2 separate regions of the Homo sapiens genome follow, and region 2 is linked to region 1. Evidence: fine-mapped expression QTL. A gene starts in region 1. The other region holds a variant in brackets. All regions are shown on one strand. Distances are from middle to middle.

Region 1 (2,912 bases):
AAGTAGAAACGCAAGAAAGTGAGCCCAGAGGCTGCCCTTTGCTTTGGCAGGGAAGACGTAGATAGGCGTGTGCATTGCCATGTGCCTTTAACTTTCTATAATCACTGGGCGCAGTGGCTCATGCCTATAATCCCAGCACTTTGGGAAGTCGAGGCAGGTGGATCACCTAAGGTCAGGAGTTCGAGACCAGCCTGGCCAACATGGTGAAACCCTGTCTCTACTAAAAATACAAAAAAATTATCCAGGCGTGGTGCGGGTGCCTGTAATCCCAGCTACTCAGGAGGCTGAGGCAGGAGAATCGCTTGAACCCAGGAGGTGGAGGTTGCAGTGAGCTGAGATCACGCCATTGCACTCCAGCCTGGGTAAGAAGAGCAAAACTCTGTCTAAAAATAAATAAATAAATAAATAAATAATACAATGACAAAGGCAGTAACAGCAGCAATGTCTACACACTAAGCTCAGGTCCTCTGGGCTAGGCAGTGTTCTCAGCCCATCTTGTTCGTTAGCTCCCAAGCTCTCTCAACCACCCTAGTGTGAGAAGTATGGAAGGGACCAGGCAGCCCTGTCCACCACCATATTCCCATTCCCATAATGGAACCTAGCTGGTAGAGATGCTCAAATGATGTTTACTGAATGGTGGCTCCAGGGCCTTTCCACCTGCTGATCTTCCTGCCTGGAGGAAGCTCTTCCTGAGATACCTGCATGGTTCCTTCCCACTCCAGGTTCCCTTTAGAAAGGATGTTCCCAACCATCCAACCTGGAAATAGAGCCCCACTGCCACCGGTGCTCTGTGTCTCCTCACCTTGCTTGATATTTCTAGAGAGCACTTATCACTACTTGAAATTATACAGGATATCTGCCTGTTTCCTGCCTGTTTCCTCCTCAGAATGGAAGCTCCTCTTGTGTTCTCGTAGAAGGCGCTCAATAAAAATTTACTGAAGCAGTGATTGATGCCCCCTCCATTCTTTCCCTGTGTGTTTTGCTGCAGCCACACTGGCTGGCTGTGCCTGATGCACACCAAGCTCATTCCCACCTCAGGGCATTTGCACAGACACACAGGTGCCCACACACCTGCGCATGTGCTGCCTGTGTGTGCATATCCCACACAAATACGCAAGATGGCCATCCAACCCTGAAGGCCTCAAAGCCCCAGCCCAGTCCACCTGGGGCACCTTGTACTCACAGGTGGGGTTCCAGGTGGGTCCGATGATCCCACAGAAGGTCTGGCGACTAGGCTGGTGGGACTCCCTGGGACTCTGTGGCCAGTGCCCCTGCCCACTCTTAGAGGCTGGCACTGCCCACGTGAGTGCTGAGCCGCCGTCACTTGACTCCCTAAGCCAGGACCTCCACAAAGGAGTCCTTGTCTTAGTCCCTTCTTGTAATCTGCTCAGAAGCAACGGCTAGCACAGCCTGGCCATGGCCCCTCTAATTTCTTCTTGGAGGGTGTTGGGCTGAGACCAGGGCTGGAATTTAGGGCAACACCCCCTCTACCATGGCCCTAAAATCCAGAGGCTAAAGGATCTGCTCCACCAGTGTTCTGACCCCTGAGGCCTTGCAGAGAGAGTTGGGGGTTAGGGGGCTGTGCTGAGCTTCAACTTCTGTGCCAGGAACTCTCCAGGAAGGAGGAGCCTCTGACTAGGCCCTGGGGTCTTTGACAGCCCTGTGGGCTATGGAAAGAATGAATACCGGGCTGCAGTCAACAGTCCTGGTTTCTGGTCCCAGCCTTGCCACCTGTGTGTGGTGACCCCGGGTAGGTTTCAGCTCCTCTCTCAGCCTCAGTGCCCTTATCTGAAAAGGATGGTGTTGCTTGGGAATTTCATCACCCTAGTAAAATGACAGAATTCTGCATATGCTGACGAGGAGCTCTGATTGGCTGCTGGTGACATCATACGTTATTCTGGCTGTGATTGGCTGGCAGGGCCCATCAGTAAGTTGCTTCAGAGAGATGGAAGGAGAAGCCTGCCGGGGCTGGTGGAGGGGGGTGAGTCTGGTGGGGGTTGACAGAACAGCCCTGGAGTTTATGCTGCTGGCTTCCAGCCAGCCAGTGCAATATGGGAATAAATGCCCAGATCCCCACGGGCAGCTGGTGAAAATCTCAGCATGTGATTCAATAAATTTTAATACATCAATCCATACTCAAGGGCTCTCCTAAGCTGTTGGAAGTGGTGGGTGTCTACCTACACACTCCTCTTGTATTGTTCAATGAAGAGAGCAGAGCTCTAGGCAGCAGTGGTTCTTGGTCTTTAGAGGCCGTAAGAATCGCCCAAATGTTTATTAAACGGGCAGTTTTCTGGATCTTTCTCCAGAGTCTGAGTCTGTGGCCTTAGGGATGTTGCATTTTAATCAAGCACTGCAGGGGATTATGAGATGTGTGGTTTTGGGACTAAACTTCCAGAAGCCCTGATTTTATAATATGACCTTGTGTCTTAAACCCACTCTCATCCTCCCTTTCCTGTCACCCTCTCTCTCTGAAATGTACTAAGCGTTAACTATGCTGAGATTGCAGGTGATTTTTCTACACACCACTTTTTTTTTCACTTTAAGTTCTGGGATACGTGTGCAGAATGTACAGGTTTGTTACATAGGTATACATGATGTGCAGGTTTGTTACATAGGTATACGTGTGCCATGGTGGTTTGCTGCACCTGTCAACCCATCATCTAGGTTTTAAGCCTTGCGTGCATTAGGTATTTGTCCTAATGCTCTCCCTCCCCTTGTCCCCCACCCCCACACACCATTTTTGCCTTTATATAATTATCTGCCTAGAAAAAAAAACACTATTTCGCAATGACCTTGAATACTTTTCTAATCATGGCAAACAATAAAGCTGTTGTTATTATAAGACTCTCTTTAGAGGCAGCCTTGTAGGAGTATTTACTGCCTCCCCGCTGCCCCATCGCTGTCCTCAACTG
Region 2 (2,912 bases), 29 kb before region 1:
GCTGGGGTTACAGGTGCATGCCGCCACGTCTAATTTTGTATTTTTAGTAGAAACGGGGTTTCACCATGTTCGCCAGTCTAGTCTCAAACTCCTGACCTCAGGTGATCCGCCCGCCTCAGCCTCTCAAAGTGCTGGGATTACAGGCGCGAGCCACCGCGCCCAGCCCAGCATCCAGCATTTTTGTTGTTCCCCCTTATTCCCTCCATGCCTTGCTAGGGATAACCTGGTAAACAAACAGAAATCTCAAATTCAATAAGCACCCCCATTTGATAAGCATTTACTAAATCCCCATATGGGAGGCACCATGGGCAAACAGTGGAATGACAAGTGGATAACAGGATGGAGCCGAATGATCTGGGCAGTGGGTGGGGACAAGGAGCGGTTCAGAGTGTGGGCTCTGGACTGGAACAGCAGGTGTGTGTCCTTGGGCAAGGTACTTTGTAGTTCTGTGCTTCAGTTTCCTCATCTGTCGAATGACATGTTTGGCCTATGTAGTAAGGGGTCAAGAAGTATCTGCTTTTATTAATAAGTATTAGTTTTTATTCTTACTTGATTCATTTTTAAGAAAAGAGTCTGAGTCTAACCCACCCAGCTGGGTGGAGCTTGGGCCTGAGGACCCCTGCCCTTGGAATACAGGAGTTTTGGGCTAAAGAGCTGACCAAGCTGGTTGGGCTTAAGGCAAACTCCAGAGACCAGTTCCAACTCCCGAGGCTCCCATTCCAGGCTCTTAAGGGGAAACTGCAGGATGGGCCCTCCGTTACCTGGAGTTAAGTGCAAAGAACCATCTCTCACGGGGCAGTACTGGCTCAAGCGAGACCCAGTCAGACAAAGCTCAAGACCTTTTCACAACGCTTGTGAGATGGGGCAGGGCAGGGGGTCCTAACTTTACCCCCCGTTTCGCCCCCCAGCAGGGCAAGGATTCCCCTTTCTCACGATGATTCAATCACATCCAACCAGAGTCTTAGCTGAGGCCCTGCCAGGTGCCAGGGCCTGGTCCCATTCCTGGGAGCAGAGATGAAGACCAGCTTCCTACAAGCCTCCTATGATGCCTTCCTACGAGCCTCCCCTATGATGATGCAATGGCACAGGGCCTCCTGTCACTCAGTAAAGGCCGAAGGAATAAACATTAGCAGGAATAAGAGACAAGCTCTGAATCCAGGAAGACTTCTCGGCAGAGGCAGGATCTGGACTGCAGCTTGGAGAAAGGGTGGATCTTTGATAGATAAAAGTGAACAGCTAGGGGAGGAAAGACTTCAACAAAGGACAGAGGCGGGGGACCAGGGGTGCGGTGGGGCACCCCAGGGGCTGGTGTGGATGAAGCAGAGGACTGTTGGGGCCCAGAGGAGGGACACCAGAGGACAAGCCCTCAGGCAGCCCCACGAGCCTGTTTTGCCCCCCGCCAGAGAGCTGAGGCTGGCACACAGGGGTGGGAGAAGTTCCTTTGTCCTTCTCCTCTTTCTCTGCAACCCTGCCCAGGAAACCAATGATAGCTGCTTGGCACAGAGTTCCCTGTGTTTTTTCATAATCACATAACCGTAC[T/G]TGAGCACTGCCAGAAGAATTTAATCTCAGGAAGCAGAGAAGCATGAGGAAAGAAGGCTGGTGTGGGAGTCAGAAGGCCTAGGTTTTGGTCCTTGGCTCAGCCACCGACTTTCCCTGTAACCCTGATCTGGTCACCCCAAATCCCCAGCCCCAGATATCATTTTCTTCATCTAACCCAAGGACTGGCATAGAGCTGGCATTTAAAAATGTTTGAAGCCAAGTGCAGTGGCTCAGGCCTGTAATCCCAAGCTTTGGGGAGGCTGAGGCAGGAGGATCTTTGGAGGTCAGGAGTTTGGGACCAGCCTGGGCAATATAGTGAGACCCCATCAAAAATTGCTCTAATTAGCCAGGTGTAGTGGCATGCACCTGTAATCCCAGCTACTCAGGAGGCTGAGGTGGGAGGACTACTTGAGCCCAGGAGTTGGTGGCTGCAGTGAGCTACGATCGTGCTACTGCACTCCAGCCTCGGTGACAGAGTTGAGACCCTGTCTCTATTTTTAAAAAAATAATAACAAAATAAAAACATTAGTTGAGTGATTGAAAGTATTAGATAGTCTCAAAGGCTCCTTCCTGTCTTGAAAATTCTGAGACCCATGCAGGAATCAGTTGCCATTTAGATGATGTAAAACAGTGGTCCCCAGCCTTTTTGACACCAGGCACCGGTTTTGTGGAAGACAATTTTTTCCATGGACAAGGGGTGGGGGAGGGAGATGGTTTCAGGATGAAACTGTTCCACCTCAGATCATCAGGCATTAGTTAGGTTCTCATAAGGAGCGCACAACCTAGATCCCTGTCACGTGCAGTTCACCGTAGGGTTCACACTCCTATGAGAAGCTAATGCCACTGCTGATCTGACAGGAGGCAGAGCTGGGATAACCAGCAGGCAGAGCTTGGAGGTAATGTTCATTCACCCACTGCTCACCTCCTGCCATGCAGCCTGGAGGTGCACAGTCTATGCACCTTCGGTACCAGTCTATGGACCAGGGGTTGGGGACCCCTGATATAAAAGGTAAGTTGACTGAAAAATCTGTTGCAAGTAAAACAAAACATGTCTATCCCTGAATCTAGGGATGGAGGCAGTTCCAATTATAGCACATCACAGAGGTTGGAGGGAGGGAAATAGTTCCCCAGAGGAAAATCTGGATCTAGTGTCCAGAAGACAGGTGGATATTGGGGAGTAGGTATGGATCTGGAGAAATCAATTCCAGAAAAAAGCAAAAAGCAAAACATCCGGATTCCTGCCACTACACATACACACCCCTGTCCACCCACATACACACCCACGATATTGAAAGGGCAGCTGGATAGGTGAGTAAATAGTGGGGAAAAACGAGAGCCACTTGGTTCCAACTAATGCTTTCAAAGAATTACAA

What was found. PIP is the estimated chance that this variant, and not a neighbour inherited with it, causes the effect.
Region 2: its variant is fine-mapped to the expression of BEST1 in whole blood (TOPMed, PIP above 0.99).

The regions. Positions count from the first base shown.
Region 1 is chr11:61,948,699-61,951,610 of GRCh38, reverse strand. It overlaps BEST1 (bestrophin 1), which reads right to left and starts at 1,260. Exons shown (of 11, transcript NM_004183.4): 1 at 1,184-1,260.
Region 2 is chr11:61,977,447-61,980,358 of GRCh38, reverse strand. No RefSeq gene overlaps it. Among named protein-coding and RNA genes, the nearest start is that of FTH1, 11 kb to the right of the region's middle. RefSeq lists a silencer at 1,762-1,978. The variant T/G (reference allele first, on the strand shown) is at 1,540.